2 separate regions of the Homo sapiens genome follow, and region 2 is linked to region 1. The links come from fine-mapping of genetic effects on gene expression. A gene starts in region 1. The other region holds a variant in brackets. All regions are shown on one strand. Distances are between the middles of the regions.

The links. PIP is the estimated chance that this variant, and not a neighbour inherited with it, causes the effect.
Region 2: its variant is the best candidate, but not a certain one, in a credible set for the expression of KLHL13 in esophagus mucosa (GTEx, PIP 0.69).

What each region holds. Positions count from the first base shown.
Region 1 is chrX:118,110,306-118,120,794 of GRCh38, forward strand. It overlaps KLHL13 (kelch like family member 13), which reads right to left and starts at 6,505. Exons shown (of 8, transcript NM_001168302.2): 1 at 6,203-6,505.
Region 2 is chrX:118,214,370-118,224,858 of GRCh38, forward strand. No RefSeq gene overlaps it. Among named protein-coding and RNA genes, the nearest start is that of KLHL13, 100 kb to the left of the region's middle. The variant G/A (reference allele first, on the strand shown) is at 5,929.

The sequences.
Region 1 (10,489 bases):
GCTAAGGAAGGTCAGGAATCATGTCTCATTTGTTTTCTACCTTTCTCTTTTCTACTTTTCTATTTCTTTTTCTTTTTTTTTTTTTTTTTTTTGAAACTGAGTCTCGCTCTGTCACCAGGCTGGAGTGCAGTGGCACGATCTTGGCTCACTGAAACCTCCAACTCCCTGTCTCAAGCGATTCTCCTGCCTCAGCCTCCCAAGTAGCTGGGATTACAGGCACATGTCACCACGCCCAGCTCATTTTTGTATTTTTAGTAGAGACAGGGTTTCACCATGTTGGTCAGGATGGTCTCGATCTCCTAACCTTATCATCCGCCCGCCTCGGCCTCCTTAAGTGCTGGTATTACAGGCGTGAGCCACCATGCCCGGCCTTCTCTTGCTCTTAATACAGATTTCTATACACATTAGCAGTTCAATAAATGTTCAACAACTGCAAAAAAATAAGTGTCTAATCACATTAAATAAGTTCTTAACTGAATTTCTTACCCCCACCCCCACAAAAGACTCTCTTGTGCTAAAGAAGCATAGGTTGGTTTAAATAACAACAGAAAAACAAAAACTAAACTGCTCTGAATGGTACCAGATGAGAGTACTAACAGACGAGTCTTGGCTCATTTCAATTACATGACCCTGCCATATCTATTTTCCTATGACATGAGAACCACACAGCCAGTCCTCTATTTACAGTTATTGCATGAGTAAATCAGTATATATTTACATGGTAACTATTATGAGCAAGCTATTGGGAAAGATAAAGTAGTTTATTTACCTCCCTAATCTCCACCACCCACAGCAACAACATACTATGTGCAAGGCCCTGATTTAAGCAGTTTACTGCAAGGTGTACAATCTCATCGAAAAATCTTGGTGCCAGATGTGTTTCTGAATTTAGAAATGTCCAGACCTTTAGACAGGAAATATACTTTATATACCATATGTTATGTAATACACCATTAGGGTCTATGGTGCAACCCCATAAACATATTAGTAATTCTATAGCAAAACAAAATAAAGATCAACATTAAGTAGAATAAAGACTATAAATACCCTATGTCAGTTTAAGTCAGGTTTTGCCACCACATGAGTTTTGGCATCTAAGTTACCAAATAAAATCTTTTTCAGTTTTCAGAGCTTTAGAAATTTAAAAATTGCAAACAAATTGTGGGCCTAGGCCGGGGGAGGTGGTTCATGCCTGCAATCCCAGCACTTTGGGAGCCCGAGGTGGGTGGATCACCTGAGGTCAAGAGTTTGAAACCAGCCTCGCCAACATGGTGAAACCCTGTCTCCACTAAAAATAAAAAGTTAGGCCGGGAGCAGTGGCTCACGCCTGTAATCCCAACACTTTGGGAGGCCGAGGCAGGTGGATCACGAGGTCAGAAGATCGAGACCATCCTGGCTAACATGGTGAAACCCTGTCTCTACTAAAAATACAAAAAACTAGCCTGGCGTGGTGGCACGCACCTGTAGTCCCAGCTACTCGGGAGGCTGAGGTAGGAGAACCGCTTGAACCCAGGAGGCGGAGGTTGCAGTGAGCCGGGATCATGCCACTGCACTCCAGCCTGAACGATAGAGTGAGAGAGCGAGACTCCGTCTAAAAAAAAGAAAAAGAAAAAGAGAAAAGAAAAAGTGGGCCTAGCTAATTCATGTAATCTTTGCAAGTACCATAAGAGGCAAGTTCTATTACCCCTTTTTTACATATGAGATAACTGAGGTACAGGGAGGTTTACTGACTCACCCAGTGTCTCACAACTATTAAGTCTCCTAGCTGGAATTGAAACCTAGGTGGCCTAGCTCCAGAGCTTGAGCTCTTAACAAGTATGCTCTACAACCTCTCTCAGAAACCACTTCGGAACACCAAACACGTGAAAAGTAAAACAGTATTAAATGATCTAACATCAAAAAATTAATAGGAGAAACATCACAAGACAGTATTTATTCATTATTCAATAACTATTTATAAAGTGCATACCATGTGCTGGGTGCTCAGAATACAACAATGAGCAAACCGGATGAGGTCTAGGTCGCCTTCATGAAGCCAGAGGCAAGTGGGGAGATGGCCAGGCATCAAATAAGCATAATTATGACACAACAGGGCAAGTGTGTGACTGCTGTTCACCTTCAGAGGGGGAGATCTAGTTCAATGGGGAATAGTGTAATAGGACCTGGAATTTGAAATGACAAAAAAGAAAGGCATGGCATCCATTTGACAAGCACCCACTGTGCACGTACTCTATGCCAGGAATAATGCTAAGCACAAAAGTTCCAAACTGGGGAAAATCAGTTTAAACCAATAGAGATTTGTGAAAGGGAATAATAAGGACATATGGGAAAGTAGGCTGGGATCAAATCAAGTTGACCCTGCAGGCACTGATGAAGGTTATTTTGCAGGTTATTCCCCCACAATATTAGGATTTACTCCTATGGAATGTCAATAATCATCTGCATTCCTATTTGGGACCAACTAGACCTCAAAGCTGGATTGCTTTCAAGGAAGGGCTTAGGGCAATAAATTCATTTAAGCCTCAGGAAACACAGTAACCCTAATCTCTCAAGGAATAAAGGTATGGCCATTTGAAAATGTTGGAGAGGCAACAGGTAAAAGAAAATGATAAGCCCTTCTTAAAATTCCAAAGGCCCTTTCTAAAACCTAGGTTATTCCTTTATACAAAATAAAATTTCCAACCTTCCAAAGGAAACATATTTCCATGAGAAAATAAGATATCATTCTTTGAAAAATAAATTCTTAAGTTGAACAATGATCTGATTTTTAATAAAGTTGGTGACAACTTACCTTGTAGCACAAGTCACAATGTGACAGTGGAAAGTAAACTGCCTTTTAACATACTCACCTCAGGGTTCCCATTCCCCCATCCCCTTACCTAAACAGAGTAGAGGAACCGAATTACATGATTATTTAGCATACTGATCATAGAGTTTTTTTTATTCTCAGGTATTAATATAAATGACTGAATGAGTAGACATTCTATTTATCCTCTGCAAAACATTTTTTTTTAAATTTCCCTGGATAATTTTTTTAAGCCAATGACCTTCCCCAGGAAAGACTCTTCAGTGGCTTCCTATTGTTCTGAGAATCAAACCCAAATTCTTTCTCAGGACCTCCAAGTCCTATTTATCGGTTATTGAGCTGCTTCTAGGCTCTGTAACATCTTCTTTAATCCGCCATGCTGGCTTGCTTTCTGCTCTTCAAAAACGCCAAGTCTCTTTTTCCCCCCTCAAGGCCTTGGCTCTTACTCTTCTCTCTGCAAGAATGTTATCTCGGGAATGTTCTCCCAGATCCTGACAAGGTAGGCCTATTCTCTCTTCTCTTTCAGGTCTCTGCTCAATCATCTTCTCTGAAAGGCCTTTTCTGACTTCCCACACTAAAGTAGGCCCTTCCTAGCTATCTGTATCATATTCCCCTACTTATTTTCATTGCTCTTACTACAGTCTATAAGGATCTTCTTCATTTGTTTGCTCGTTTATTGTCTGTATTCTCTGGTAGAATATAAGCACTGTGATACTCCACAAGAGCAAAGATCATGCCTTATAAGGTTTATCATTGTGCCTAACACAGGGCCTTGGCACACAAGTACCCAGTAGATTTTGTAAAATGAATTAGTAAATGAATGAATGATACATAAAAACCTGATTGTTATGAATATCAGTAACTTGAGAAAGCCATTTTTATAATTTTGAGATATTTTCTCTAGGGCTATTCATTTCTCTACAGTCTTTCCACATTTTCTGAAATAATTCCTGGAAATTTGTTGTATTATTTCATAGCAATAAAAATACATCGGTTTCAATCAGTGGATTTAAGAAAAAAATATTTTCAAGAGGTTTTAGTGGTTTATCAAACATCAATAAAAATCAAACAATTTGAAAATTGGTCAGTCTCATTTCACTACTGCAAGTCAAATTACATGAAGAAGCATAATTTGAAATGTACATAAAATGAGAAAGAAGATAATCCAATAAGTAAGTGCAGTTACATTTAGTAATATCAGAAATATCCAGTCTGCTAACCTCTAGGTGTACCAGATGGACTATCAAACACATATTGAGTCATATTGAAGATTCAGAGCAAAATGCTTATGGCTAACTCATCCACCTTTATTCTTTTCCTGGCAAATATAAATAGTCTTACTATGCAATCACATTAGCAGCAATCTTAGCTTAGATTTTGTATCAATAATAAGCATGAAAAGAAAAAAGTAAGAAAATAGTATAAACTCTTTTCCTTGAAAAAGTTGTAAGTTTTTATGTATTTTGAGAATAGTTTGCTAAGAAAATTACAGACTTAGAAAGTGGGCCTATTAGAATAAGTACCCTTTCCCTACTACATTCCATTTTTTAATAAACCTCAAGTAAACTCAGGAATTTACCAAATCAATTGGGAAACTACAAATCATCTGCAAGTTATCTAACTAAATTGATAAGCAATAGGCCTTACTTTTCTTGTGAAAACTACTTTCTTCAGAACATCAACTGAGCCTTATATAATCACACTACACTTTTTGAAGTGTGCTTATAAAAATGGCAGATTGAAAACCTTGGGCTTTTTAATAATTGAAGCTCTTATTTATCTGTTTTTTAAATACATCATTTGATGTTGCAGCAGAAACTACTCTCATCTCACTGCCATAAGACGTGCTACCAGGACAGTGAAATTTAGCCATTATCTTCATTCACAACCTGGTTTCTTCTGAGATTGCTGCCAATTAGTGCACACTGTGTCAATGGCAACACTTGGTCATACATCAGGCAAACAACTCTTTTACCGTTAAGTATGAGGATATTAATAAGAACTTGCAGTTAAGGGAGCTAATATTTTTAGATGTAAAATGATGTCATAAATGCTGAATTATTTCATTTTTCTCAGTTTTTAAATTTGAACACTAGATACAGTCTATTTCCAAAAACACAGCTGCGTATGTCAGCATGTGCTTGTTCACTGGTATTTGCCTCCACTTTGTGCTTCTCCATTCAGCTTTCTTCACACACTAATTGCAGTATGAAAGTGAGCAAATGAACCTCAGTATGGGAGCTAACACCACAACTACATGGGGAGAAAGCGATATCGCTAAGAGTGAGTAGTCTTTTTTGTAACTACGTGGTTTTAAAATATGCTGCTTTTAGAGGGTTTATACAAACATGAAATCTACTGTTAAGAAACTGTGGCTTCAAAAAAAAGAAAGCAGGTGCCCTCCAGAGACAGTTTTAAATCCCAGCGTCTCTTAGTCTCCATTCAATGTGCTTAGTTACCAGCCTATGCTAACTTGAGCGACTTTATCCCAAACCACTAAAGTCCTCTGACTACATTAAAACGATTAACATCCTAGTTTACAATTAGAGAAATGGAGCCAGGCATCACAATTCCCACCAATCCTCTCTCTCAGGCCTGCTCAGCAGCCAGGGAAGAATCAGATTTAGGACCATGTACGAAGATTGCGTACCAACATATATACATACATTTTAAGTGGCTATTGTTCTTGGACTAAGTTAATGAAACCTAGAAAGAAACTTTAAAGTTCCCTAGTTGATATTTACTAAGGCTATTTAGTGAAGGAATGATCTCATCACTTTCAGTAAACTGTAGCCTAGACTATAAGCCTCCAAGAAAATCATTAGTCAACTGTAATTAAACAAACAAACAAACAAAAAAGTCAAAATATTCAGAGCTGAAGACATTCAGAGCTAAGTTAAAAGCTTCGAGGAAGAAGAGGAGTGTGCTCCTGACTTGGGAGCCAGCAGAGGAGCCTCCTAAGTTAGAAGATTCTGAAGGAGAGATGGATTAGGAGGCACAAAGCAGAAACTGTTAGAGGGCAAGAGACAGTAGGGCCGGGGCGGGCAGCGGGACCCCAGACCGTCAGGGCAGCAACAGCGAGGCCCAGAGGAGAAGATCTTGGAGAGATGACAAAGAAGCACAGGAAAGCCGGGTTCTGGGGTCCTAGAAGAACCCAGGCGTCCGACGGAGCCAGAGGGACCGGCAGAAAGGGATGCGAAGGTGTAAGGATGAGGGCGCGCACCAGCACGCGGGAGAAAAAGAGGGGGCGGCGGGCAAAATGAAGCTGTTTCCCTGCTCCTCTGCTCCTCTGCCCCTGGTACAGATCGCAACTCCTCGCCGCGCACCGCGCAGCGCCGGGTCCGAAGGCAGGGAAGCGGCTGCTGGAGCCCCTGTGACTTCAGGACCCTGCCTCACCTTGCTCGCCGCGTCCTGGCGTCCCGCCGCTTGTCCGCCGGGTGCTGCGCTCCGAGGGCCAAAGAGGGAGTCGCGCGGCGCAGCCGGGGCTCCCTCCTGCTGCGAGGCACCAGCACCCGCACCTTCGCACCCTCTGCTCGCCCCGACCACTTCACCCTGTCCTGGCGCAGGCGGAGAGCACGGACCCTAACCCGAATGCCGCTGCAGTTATTTTCAAAAGTCCCCGTTCCAGGCTTCCCAGGAATAGGAGCTGAGCTACTGCGGCCGCAGCGGCAGAGCCTCCGCCTGACCTCACCAGGGTGTGGGGGGGCTGCTGAGGGAGGGGGGCGGGAACCCAGTTGGGGAGGGAGGGGGCAGTGGGGGGGGGAGCGCGCGGGCGGGGGAAACATGGCGGCGGGGGTGGCCCCGGCGGCGCCTGCGCGGGAGGCAGGGTGGCGGGGAGCCGGGGCTAGGACGGTGTGTGGGGTCCGAACGGAACTCCCAGGCTGTAGCGAAAGCGTGACAGGGCCGGACCCTGAAGCTGAATGACCGCTAAGTGGCCCTCACGCCTCGGAAACCGGGAGGCTCTGGTGTGAGCCCACATGGATTCTAGTGCCGGGAGGCAGAAAAAGTGAAAAGTGTCAAGTATCCAGGGACAACAGTGCAGCCGCCCCGGGTTAGCCACTCCAAGGAGGTCCACCCGTGCATTCTGCCAGCCGTGGCCTCGGCCTCCTCATAGTCACGGCGGGGCCCGAGCAAAGGGTGTGCCCTGGAAGCGGTGCCACCTCACCTCAGTGGGGCCCACGTCTCAAAATAAGCCTGACCCAGGCTCTCACACAAATATCACTCTTCTAGTGGGATAAGCGCTTCATCCCTCCCCCTCCCTGCTGCAGTACACAACATTAAGAAAGAGGAAGGATAAAAACTACAAATAACAGTTTAACATTTTACTGAGCGTCTGCTATGAACCAAGCACTGAAGCATCAACTTACCTAATTCACAGCTACTCTACAAGTTACACACTATTGTCTCCATTTTACAAGTGACAAAACTGAGGTGTATAGGTTAACCAAGTTGCCAGAGGTTACATAAATAGTAAGTGGCAGAGCGGGACTCAGGATCCCAAGCGGTGTGATTCTGGTACCCAGGCTCTTAACCACTATGCAAACTGCTTCCAAACTCTGGTGGGACTGCTCTTCTAAGTCAGAATCTTGATTCTGCTCTATCAGCCTAGCCCCCAAAAAAAACCCCAGTCAAGCCTGTTTTTCCCCTTGCTTGTCTTCTATTCATTCTTTGCCTTCTTGACGGTTACAGCCTGGGGCCACCTTCTTACACCTATTCCTTTGCCCTTTCTACTTATAATTCCAGACTCCTCCTTGGGAAAATAAAGGGAGTTTGCTCTTAGCAACCAGTTTAATCACTATTGTGATTTTTTTTCTTTGGCTGTTTTTTTCTTCTTCTTCTTCTTAAGGAAGTGATGCGGTGAGTGTGGAATCTTTATGTTTTCTAGGATTTCTCCCTCTGGGATCTGAGATCTTCAACATTGCTGACTTTGTATTTCAACTTACATACACTGAAATTCTAGTAGTAGGTTTTAGGTAAATTTGAGAATAATCAGCTACTCAAAAACTTGCTAGAACTAAAGATAATACCACATTGTTGGACTTTACCAAATAATCAAAGAACTCCAAATATACATAGAATTTGCATTATTACCTTTTACGTGCAAGTGTATTGAACCCAATTCCCCTTTGTTAACAGGAATGCTTCCACTGGCTTCTCCACTATGCTTATTCAATAATTATTGTATACCTACCTTACACACTAAATGCTTATTGGGTAGAAAGCACCTTGTACAGAAGTTTACAATCTCACTGAGGTGATATATTCCAAACAATCACTTTTAGCATGTATCAAAAACCTGGCACACAGGTTAAAAAAAAAATAAGTACAAACTGAGCTGGTGTACACTCGAGTCACTGCTTTGTCCTGCCATAAAAAGGTTCAAGTGGGGTTACTTTATAATAAGTTTCTCCCACAGAAATGCCAGTAAAAATGGGATAATCCAGTGTGGGCCAAGCAGCCCTTATCTACACAAAGAGAAAACCCTCATAGCAAGGGTGTTGAGATGGGGGCAACTGCAGGATCTGCATTTGAACTGCCAGTAGCTTGCACAGATTCTCAGTTTAAAAAAAAAGAAAAAAGAAAAAGAACTGGCAATAAGATATTACAAATATGCTTATCCAATAGAAGTCCATTGCTGTTTGGGTTCGGATGCTTTATCTGAATACTTAATCTACTGGATAGAGCACTAGACTCAGAGTCAGAAGACAATTTATGTGCTATGTGACATTAAGTTAGTGCTCTGAGAGTGTTTTCCCAAATTTCCAGTGGGGAGCAAAATAATACTGGTCTGATATGCCCCACAGCATTGTTTTGGGTTTCAAATAAGATAACACATGGGAGAGTATGTTGCATTTGGAGAAAAGGTCTTTAAAGAGGTAATTCAGTTAAAGTAATGTCTCTAAGATGGGCCCGAATCCAATATGACTGGTGTCCTTTTAAGAAGAGTTTAGGACTTAGACATATATGCACATAGAGGAAGGACCATGTGAGGATGCAGTGAGAAGGCAACCACTTGCAAGACAAGATGGGGCTTCAGAAGAAACCAAACTTACCTACACCTTGATCTTCCAGAATTACAAGAAAATAAATTTCTGTTGTTTAAGTTACCCAGTCTATGGTGTTATACTTTGTTATGGCAGGTCTAGCAAACGAACATAATGGGAAGCATTTCAAATGCCAGCTAGAGTATCCGCTGACTTAGTTATTGTTCATTGCTAAAAACACACACATTAATTATCTGTTTCCACGTGTCAGGAGTCCAGGTATGGTTTAGCTTGGAGCACTGCTCAGGGTCTCACAAGGCTGCAATCAAGTTTTTGGCTGGGCTGTGTTCTCATGTGCAACTCAGAATCTTCTTCCAAACTCATTCAGATTGTTGGCCAAATTCAGTTCCTTGCAGTTACAGAATTAAGACCCGTAGCATTTACTGGATCTAGAGGCAGCCCCTCTCCATTAGCAGTTGACAACATGGTTGTTCTACTTAGCCAAGGCCAACAGAAAAACTTCTTTCTCCTCAGGAGGGGTCCAGTGCCTCTTTTAAGGTCTTTTACCAGATTAAGTCAGGCCCACCCAAGATTATCACCCCTTTGATTAACTCAAAAATTAACTGTGTGCCTTGATTACATCTGCAAAATCTCTTCACCTTTGCCACATAATGTAACCTAATCACAAGAGTGATAGCCCAGCATATTCACAGGTCCCAACCATACCTAAGTGGAGAATGTATAACAGAAGACAAGAATCTTAGGACCATCTTAGAATTCTCCCTACCATGCCCCAAAGATTTGACAGCACCAATTAATTATACAATTATAAAAATTAACTAAGAGACCATACAGGCAGATGTGGGCACACACATAACATACATACACACACACACACACACACACACACACACACCAAAGTACACAGAGCTGGTAGCTGATCCCTAATCGGTCTAAAAGCATTTGCAAGCTTGCTGTGTGCCTAATGTGAAACTAAAAGATTTCAACTGCATTAATTCTGACTAAAAAACAAATTGAAAACTATTTAGGATACATTTTGTCTCTCTGGTAAATTTGCATTTCCTCAAAACACTCATCTCATCAATTATTGAATGGAGCCTATTATTGAATGGAATCTATTATAAAAAAAAAAACCCTCACAGGGCTTTGGGTAGCATACACAGAAGGGTCTTGCTTTAGAAGTTAGAGATAAATCTGATTAAAGATGTGTAAGACCTGTCCTGAAAACTTTAGGCTTAAATAAATGTAGAAATATACTGTATTCATAGGGCAGAAGAATTGATATCATTAAGATGTCAATTCACTCCTAATTGATTTATAGTTACAGCACAACCCCGATCAAAGTCCTAGCTGGCTTTTTCTGTAGAAATTGACAAGCTGATTCTAAAGTTCATATGGAAATTGAATAAAATAGCCAAAACAACTTTTACAAAGAGCATTAGGGGGATAATACTACCTGATTTCAATTTTTACTGTAAAGCTACAATATTCAAGACAGTGTGGTATTGATCAATGAAACAGAATAGAGTCCATAAACAGACCCACAACGTATATGGGCAAGTTATTTTCAACAAATATTCAAAAGCAATTCAGCTTTTTGAGGAACCTCCATACTTCTTTCCATAGTGAGAGCACCAGTTTATATTGCCACCAACAGTCTCCACATCCACGTCAATAC
Region 2 (10,489 bases), 100 kb after region 1:
GCCTCTGAACAATTAGTTGCCACACCACCCTGGGCCTCAGTATCCTCATTTGTAACTTGAGAATAACCCCGTCTTTATGGCCAGGCGCAGTGGATCACGCCTGTAATCCCAGCACTTTGGGAGGCTGAGGCGGGCGGATCACGAGGTCAGGAGATCCGGACCATCCTGGCTAACACGGTGAAACCCCATCTCTACTAAAAATACAAAAAAATTAGCCAGGCGTGGTGGCGGGCGCCTATAGACCCAGCTACTCGGGAGGCTGAAGCAGGAGAATGGCGTGAACCCAGGAGGCGGAGCTTGCAGTGAGTCGAGATCGCGCCACTGCACTCCAGCCTGGGAGACAGAGTGAGACTCCGTCTCAAAAAACAAAAAAATGCTCTTCTATGCAATTGTAAACATTCTTGCAATAATTGAAAACATAGAAAATCTCTAAAAGAAATAGAAGATATAAAAGAGAAGTAAACGTAAAATTTATTTATTGATTTGTTTCTTTTTGAGACAGAGTCTTCCTCTGTTGCCCAGACTGGAGTGCAGTAATGCGATCTCACAGTGGCTCACTGCAACCTTCACTTCCCAGCCTCAAGAAATTCTCCTGCCTCAGCCTCCCCAGGCACGCACCACCAGGTCCAGCTAATTTTTTCGTATTTTTAGTAGAGACGGTGTTTCACCATGTTGGCCAGGATGGTCTCGAACCCCTGACCTCAAGTGATCCGCCTGCCTTGGCCTCCCAAAGTGCCTCACAGGCGTGAGCCACCACACCCAGCCCAAATGTAAAATTTAGAAATGGAAAACACAATAACAAAAATTTGAAACTCACTCGAAGGGATCAATAGCAGATTGGAGATGACAGAGGAAAGAGCCATTGAACTGAAAGATGAATGAAAAGAAATTATCCAATTGAACAAGAGAAAGAAAGAGATTTTTTTAAAACATATCTGATTTGTAGTGTTTGCTGATTTCTATACTGAAAATATTTCCACCATGGCCCATGTCAAGGTACCAACTACACATTAGTGAATGCATAGTCAGGAAGAGGTGCACACAACTGGCTGTTATCCATAAATATTGCTCACTCCTCAGGCAAAACCAGCAGTACTGTGGGCTATTGAGTCTCAACCTTCTGACCACACACACCCTGAGGCTGTTGATATCCTTTTTAGGCATTCTCAACTCCCTCTGAGCCGTCCCTGGTGTTCTCCTCAACCTGATTTCAAATGGATAAAAACGTGCAGAAGGCATACAGTAGGATTGCCAGGGCCATCCCCTCCATCTCTAGAGGAAGTCTGTATGTGTAAGACAACATTTCTCCAACAAGGAAATGAGCTAAATGACTTCAGCTAAAACCAACAGTATATTTCTCAAATTAGGAGCCTGATGTCTGACACAGATAAAATGTGGAAAACATAACCTAGATGAGCAAGTACAGGGTGGGCACACACCCTATATATGGAATGGCAAAGCTGGGCTTATAATTGATCCTCAGGTCTGTCTTGTCATTCTGGAGCTTTGTACCAAAAGCCGCTGTAGCATTCCAAATACAACCCCATGTTAAAATTACTCAGCACCCTCAAGAAAGGCTGAAAAACACGGTAGGCTGGAAGTTTCAGTGACAGGGATGCTATTCTGATTAAGAGTCAGTTGTTTGTCAACAAGCAAAGTTTCAGGGTAGGGACGGTTCTGAAATTCTTATACAGGGCTCCATGACATCAAAGATCCAAAGATCATAAGCCCCTGCAATGGCTTATGAGTATTAAATCCTCAAAGCCACAAATATCCCAGAAAGTTCCTCTCCAACCTAACCATCTCACTTGTACACAACACCCAAAGGTCCAGAGTGAACGAACGACTTTCTCAAGGTCATAAAACTAATGAGCCATAACAAAAAATGCAGTCTTCTGATTCCCAGTCCCGTGTTTTTTTCCTGACATCACACTTCCTCTTACACTTCCTTCCCTGAACAAGATTTATCTGGCTAATGGTAATAGAGATGAAAAAGTATTTGTGTGGTTTAGAGGAGAAACAAAAAAAACTAATGGGCCAGTCACAGTTGACTCTGATAGCATCAAGGAGGAGGTCAAGCTAGTGATATTGTTGTTGTGTAAGGTAGAAAATGGAAACGCATTCTGAATCGAGGAATTTGGATAGTCCCCTCTAAGAAGTTAGCAGGAACACTGTTTTGAGAAGTGCTCAGGGTGCAGCTGCAGTGTTATTACAGAGCTGTTGGGAAAGCCCAGTGCCCAAGGTGGTAAATGTATTCTAGGTGCTCCCTGCTACCACCCCGCCTCTGTAGCATACACTGCCAAGTCTGGTCAATTGTTTGACAAGGCAGCTGTGTGCATGCCCGTTAATTACACTGTGGAGCACCAAAGTGCAGTGTCAGGCAGCTGCCTAGAATATCAAAAGGCTGCTCGTGGGACAGGCCAGCTATAAGGGCTCTCTTCAGAGAAGTCCATACAGCAGCTGACTCTCCCTCCCCATCTCCCCCTGCCCTCGCCTACGCAGCCCCCTTTAAAGTCTCATTATGAAGGTTGGAATTCTATATTTTCACAGAGTTACTTTAGAATCCATAATGGAACAAGTGTTGTTGATCTTTCTGACATGCCTGAACGAGATGAATGTGAATACTATCTTACATTTCTGCCTCTCCTAATGGTAATATTTCCCTTGAAACCAATGTATCCTTTGCAATATGTTTACCCCATCTGATTAGAATTACTTTCAACTAATTCTATGCTTCCAAAATAATGGCAGCTAACACTTACATGGAGCTCCATATGTGCCAGGCACTTTATATAAAGTAATTTATTTACTCCTCACAATAACCCCAGGTAGATGTTATTAGTATCCCCATTTTATAGATGAGGAAACTGAGACTTAGAGGTTAAGTAATTTGTCCATATCACACGGCCAGTACACAGCAGAGCTGGTATTGAAACCTAGGCATGTGCCTCCTCCATCTCCATGTTTTGTTTTTTCTTTTTTTCGGAGTCTCGCTCTGTCACCAGGCTGGAGTGCAGTGGCACGATCTCAGCTCACTGCAACCACCGACTCCCTGGTTCAAGTGATTCTCCTGCCTCAGCCTACCGAGTAGCTGGGATTACAGGCACATGCCATCGCGCCCAGCTAATTTTTGTATTTTTAGTAGAGACAGGGTTTCACCATGTTGGCCAGGATGGTCTCCATCTCCTGACCTCATGATCCACCCAACTCAGCCTCCCAAAGTGCTGGGATTACAGGCATGAGCCACCATGCCCGGCCTCCTCCATGCTCTTAACCACTACAATGATACTGCCTCAACCAAAGCTAATGGTGCAGGCCCATCAGCCAACATTAATCTAGCTTCTATAATGTGCATATGTTTGATATTTTGTTCTACTTGCCGCCTTTAGAGTCAAGTCAATTTTCTCTACCTGTTTTTCCACAAATACAAGGAGGGAAAATTCAATGCCCTGGGGTGACACTGGGTGATCAAAGTTGACTGGGGTGATCAAAGAAGGCTTCATGGAAGAGGCGGATCTTGAGTTGGACCTTGAAAGTTTCAAGTCTGCCTATCAGAGGTTAAAGGAGTTAGAGAGGAGAGGTTATATCTGGCAAAGGGACCAATGTGAGCAAATTCACACAGGTAGGAATGTACATAGGAAATAAGTTAAACTGTGAGGCTGAGGTACTGCTGGTGTGCCTGGATCACAAAGAGATTTAGCTCCAATGTGAAAGATGGACTGATAGACTGGTATATGGATAAGGAGAAGGAGGAAGAAAGGAAAAAGTTGAAGTGTATGTATGTGTTTGTGTGTGTTTACATGTGTGTGTACCTGTGTATGTGTGTGTATATGTGTGTACATGCGTGTATGTGTATGTGTGTATATGGGGGGTGTGTATGTGTGCATGTATGTGTATGTACGTGTGCGTATGTGTGTGCATGTGTCTGTATGTGTGAGCATATGTGTATGTGTATGTGTGTATGTGTGTGTCTGTGTGTGCGCATATGTATGTGAGTATGTGTGTGCACATGTGTGTATGTGTGTAAGTGTGGGTATGTATATGTGTGTCTGTGTGTGTATGTGTCTGTGTGTATGTGTGTGCACGTGTGTGTGTGTGTGTGTAAAATAAGAAAAAGCTGGAGAAGCTGGCGATCATTCATCCATAATTTGTTTTCTCTCCCCCCTCCTTCCACCAAGACTCTGTCTGTCCATCACATGAGTTATTCACTGCCAAGCAAAAGCCTGATACTGCTGCATTCATAATTTTCTGAAAGTTAAAATCCAAGTGATTACAATTTTCTATTTCTGCCCCCTAAAAACAGGATTAAACTTTTTATGAAATTCTAATGCCTAACCTAATGTTCCAGCTTACTGAAAGCCCCCAATATGCAGCCACAGCAGTACATTTTCCACATTCTTAAAGCTTACTTCCTTTCAATACCCTCAACTGTTATTTTTGCCTTTTGTAAAAAAAAAAAAAAAAAATTGACGTATCATTTACATACAGTAAAATTCATCTTTTATTAAATTAGTTCTATGAGTGTTGACAAACCTCCAACAAAATCAAGATAGAAAACTGTTCCAATTCTCTCATGCTGCCCCTTTGTCCCCACCCTGCAGCTCCTGGCAACCACTGATCTATTTTCACATAAATGGAATTATACAGTACGTAGCTTCTTTCACTTAGCATACAGCATTTGAGTTTCATCCATTTTGTCATGTGAATCAGGTGTTTGTTCATTTTTATTGCTGAGTAGGATTCTACTTTATAGATGTTCTATAACTTTTAACCATTCACCAGTTGTAAGACGTTTGGGTGGCTTCCAGTTTTTAGCAGTTATGAATAAAGCTGCTATAAACATTGGCATACAGGGTTTTGTACAAACATAAGTTTTCGTTTCACTTGGGTGGGTAAATACTTATCTGATAAAAGGCTTATACCCAGAATATATAAAGAACTCGGAAAACTCAATAATACGAAAATAAATATTCCAATTTTTTTTTAAAGTCAAAATACTGGCTGAGCGCGGTGGCTCATGCCTGTAATCCCAGCACTTTGGGAGGCCGAGGCAGGTGGATCACGAGGTCAAGGGTCGAGACCATTCTGGCCAACATGGTGAAACCCTGTCTCTACTAAAAGTACAAAAATTAGCTGGGCGTGGTGGTGCTCGTCTGTAGTCCCAGCTACTCGGGAGGCTGAGGCAGGAGAATTGCTTGAACCTGGGAGGCAGAGGTTGCAGTGAGCCGAGATCACTCCACTGCACTCCAGCCTGGCGACAGAACAAGACTCCGTCAAAAAAAAAAAAAAGTTGAAATATTTCAACAGACATTTCATCGAAGAAGATAAACTGATGGCAAATAAGCCCATGAAAAGATGCTCGATATAATTAGTTGTTAAGGAAACGCAAATTAAAACCAAGATGATATACCACTGTGCACCTATTAGAATATAAAAAAAATTTAAACTGAAAATACCAAGTGGTGGCAAGAGTACAGAACTACAGGAACTCTCAAATATTGATACTAGAAATTCAAAATGGTACAGCCACTTTGAAAATCAGTTTAGCATTTTCTTATAAAGTTAAACATAAACTTGCCGTACATTCCAGCAATCCCACTACTAGGTGTTTACCCAAGTGTTTTCAATCACATTTCCAGGATGGGTTTTTTTTCCTGCCTTCTTAATCAGAGTAAAGTGAATATAATCTAATTATAGCTTGATGACTTGGGTCTAGCATTATAAGCACTATTGGATTATACTGGGATCCTGTTTTAATGTCTGGCTTCCAGGAAGAAAAAAGCTGTGTCTCCTTTATACCACTTTATGTTCTAAGTACTAAGAATACATACAGGGAGGCAAGAGAGTCCCTATCTAACAGGTGGAGATAATACTCAAGGCTGTTGTGGCCCATATGATTGTTTGTCTTTTGCTCAATAGCCTCTGACT[G/A]CTGAGCTTTTCCCAGTTTTTGCATATGTCTTTTAAAATTCTACTCCACCCCTGCATTCAAGATTTTGGCTGTTATTTCTCCTGATTCTCAGTGGACCTGCTGTTAATAGCCTCTCATCTAATTTGCTGTGGGCCAGCAAGCCAGATAATGAAGTCTATTAGAATTGTGTACAAAATAAGGTTACTGATTAAAGTTAGGACCTGACTGCCTCTCCTGATGCTTCTCCCACAGGATAAAGTCCATGGTCTTGATGATAGTTATTTTGACCTCTTAAAGGCCTTCTTTGTTTCCTTCCAGGTTCTGGACATCTTCCAGAAAGGCCACCTAAGATTACTGGCAGTCTAAACTACAGATAATGGGGATGGTACCACAGTTCACATCTACTATAATCTAATCTGTTGAAACCTTTGCTCTATCTCCATGCTGTGCAGAAGGACAAGTGAGCTTTATGATCTAGGGGAACTAGGTTTGCATAACTTTAATGTAGTTAACAACAGAACAATAGAGAACAAGCCATTAACCCAAAGAGCAAAGGCAAGGCCTGTTAGGACAGGAAAATGAGTGAAGATAAAATATATGCCAAGTTCTGCCTCCTACGCCCAAAAGCCTCTATTTCTCATTGGGACTACTGTATTTCAAAGAAAGTGCAAGTTTTTTTTTAAGTGTGTATATCCCATTTTCTATCCATCTTGAATGCAAAGTCATTCAGCACATACATCAGCCTCTCACTGCAACTTACAATTGTCCTTCTAGATTTGAAAGGCTTTGTGACCTCACAGAGGGACTGAATTACAACTAAAATTTAGCAGTAGAAACAGCTGTTCCTATGGATGCTTTCTTTCCTCTTCCACCTTGTTAGAGTAAATCTTCAGAAATTCAAATAAAATAAAGAAACTACTTACCTTCTTAAATAATCTCTGCTTTACCAAACAGAATCATACCTTCTATTGTCTTCCTTTTTAAAAAAAAATCAGTGGGTTTTGGGCAAGGTCTGCTTTGTGCCAAATACATTGTCTCAAATACATCAGCGATTTCCATTCCAAAGAAGAGTTCAGTCACTTGCTGAATAAAATAATTTTCCACAGCACAGGAAATGAGGAGATTGGATATTCTATCAGATGGGCAACTGAACAAACAGGGCTCCAGGTGGCTAATGTCACAAGGATGAAGGCGCCCAGGGGAATAAGGAGGCTTTGGAGTTTCAATGGCCTTCTCTTCATCAACATCCAACAGAACGTAATTGCATTTCCACCACGATAGCAGGATTTTTCCAACCATCCCCCAGATAATAATCTATTCTAATGTAATGCAGTTTCTTTAGAAGGACACAATTTATTGCAATACTGAGCTATTTATTTCCTTCCTTTCCTTTAATTATCTATCTTTGACCTTAGTCTTAAAAAAAAAACTCTCTTTTTGTTGGCTAGTTCCAGCTAAAGGTACCCTGTTGAAGAAAATGGACTCCTGTTATTTCTATGAAAGATTTTAAAAGGTTGAGAAAATATTTTGTCTGTTTTATTTTAATTAAAATTGACTATGACATTTTTCTTTCCGAGAAACATCATTTCCAAGCTCTGCTTCTGACGTAATTGCATGCTTTTAAAAAAAAAAATCCCTAAATGGCTTTGTGTCAGTGAAGTGACTAATAGCATTCACCACTCATAAAAAAAATAGCTCGTTTATGTTAGCTACATTTAGATAGTTGTCTATGCAACATGAAGTTAATTTGATTAACTTAGATGAGCACTGTACTGCTCATGGCACATCTTCTTCAAAACCCTTAAATGATATTAAGGAAATATTGTCAGCTCTTTTGTGTGATCATGGTTTTGTGGTTATTTTTGTAAAAAATCTTTATGTTTCAGGGACACATGTATGAAACAATAGGATGCCTAGGATTTGCTTCCACATAATAAGGGGTAAATGGGGCATGAGATTAAATGAGAGTGGTCATAAGATGACAATTGCTGCAGCAGGGTGATGGCTGCATGAGGAGTTGTCATATTGTTCTGTTACTTTTGTATATGTTCAACATTTTCCATAGTAAAAAAGTGAAAACCTTTAATCACTCTAATGCCCAAAAATGTATCAACTTCTCAAGACAGAAAGGCTAAAGAGGAAATAAAATTATAAAGAAAAAGAAAAATTTTTTTAAGTATCAACTCCTTAGTCTGTCTTTCAAAGCCTTGGTTAAACTTTGCATTTACAAAGCTAATTTGTAAACCTAGCCTCTCCCTATTCTCACTCATGTAACCTCTGCACCAGCCAAACTGGACTACTGACAATCTACTGAAAATGTCTGGTATATACTCACTTCTGGATTCTAGCACATTTGATCCCCTCTGCCAGAAATGTCTTGCCTTTCCCATATCTATTTCTGTCAAATTCCATCCAGTCCCATATCAAATGTCACTTGTTCCATGAAGGCTTGCATTAATCCCTCATTGGAAATCAAATCTTTTCCCATCATAGTCTGTTTGCATTGTCTGTTTAATTATTACATGATTACCTAATTAAATGAGGTATAAACTTAATGGTAAAATTGTTCACAGAAAATAATGATTTGGTATAGTTCAGTGTAAAGATGGTATTAGATCAAAATTTTATTGAATATTTACCTGACATGCAACACTGTGATTTATTCTTGGAGCATTATATAAAGAATGGAATCTGGTCCCAAATTAAGTATCTCTGTACTTAACTTCTAATCACAGATTAGAATGATGGAAGGGAAAGCATGACATTATCAGTAAGCATTTACTGGGTGCCCACCAAAAAACGGGAATGCCCAAACGCTAGTCGTAACCATTTGCACAGACACAGTTTCTATCCCTCCAGAGCTTTCAAACTAAGCCTTAAAATACAGTTGTCCCTTAGTACCCATGAGGGATTGATTCCAGGACACCTACATATACCCAAATCCTTGCATACTCAAGTCCCACAGTTGGCCCTGTGGAACCACCATATAGGAAAAGTTGGTCCTCCTCAAAGGCAGTTTTGCATCCCAGAAATACTTTTGTTCCTCATTTGATTGAACAAAAAAGCCACATGTAAGTGGACTTTTGCCGTTCAAACCCCTGTTCTTCAAGGATCAACTGCAGATGCAGATGGACAGGCCCAGATAGACAACAAGTGTTTCTATTTCAAGAGTGAGCACATTTGACATGGGAAATCTTCTCATGATACAATATTAAGTTGAAAAAAGGACAGAATACTAAACTATATATATAATATGACCCTATATATAAACATGACCCTAGTTTTGTAAGAAAAAAGCAGTTTCTATATATAGAAAAAAAGAAAAAGGAATTACAAAAAAGTTAACAGTAGTTATTTCTAGGTGATAACATGAGAGATAATTTTTCTTTCTTTTAGTTTTTTGGTACCTCTAAAATTTTTATAATGTGCAGCTATATTTACATAATGAGGGAAAGATAATGATTTTTAAAGTATATTTAGAAAATTAAATCTCATGCCATATACCAAATGGATTAAATATTTGAATCTGAAGTACCAGAACCATAAAAATACTAGAATAAAACGTGGGCAATTTTTTTATAATTTCAGGGTGGGAAAGATCTAAGATGCCATATAACCCAGAAGCCATAAAAGCAAAGATTGATCAATTTGACTATATAATCTAAAAAAATTGTATCACAAAAAATCATTATCAGGAAATCAAAGACAAACTGGAAAAAATAGCAACACGCCCTACAGACAAACGGCCAGTTTCCTTAATATATAAAGGACCCCTACATATCAATAAAACTAAGGCCAAGAACCCAATTACAAATTAGACAATGGATAAATATAGATAATTCACTTAAAAAGGAAATAGCTATTTCTCTTAAACATATGAAATGTGTTCAGTCTCATAAATGTGCAAACTAAATCTAGAATATGTACAACTACAATATGTATCAGATAAAGAAAGATAAAAATAACACATTCTGTTGCAAGAGTGTGGGGAAATGGGCACCCTCATACATTGTTGATGGGATTAATAATTATTTTGATTGCAATAGAGACAATTTGGTAATTTCTATCAAAATTAAAAATATACCCACCCTTTGACCCAGCAATTTCCATTCAAGGGATTTAACCTACAGATATACTCCCATATATACAAAAAGACCTTTACAAAAATAGGCATTAGAGCAATGTTTGTAATAGCAAAAACTTTGAAACCATCTAGATGTCCGTCAACAAATTATGGCTCATCCATACATTGAATTGGGCATTTTTACATGTACTGATATGAACTACCTCCAAAATAATGCTAAATGAAAAAAGTTGAGTGTTGATGAGTGTATAAAGTATGTTATTATTTGTATTGTGTAAATGCTTAGAATGTCTTTGGAAAATAAATACAAGTTGGTGGTAGTTATTGCCCTGGGGAAGGAAATCGAATGGCTGTGATTAGAATAGAAGGACAACTTTTCACTTTTTGAGTTTTTTAAATGTATTTACTTATTTTTACTGCTTGGGATTTGCACCATATGCATGTATTTGTTATTCAAAACTTATTTAAAAGTGATGAAAGTTTAAAAATCCCTTAAA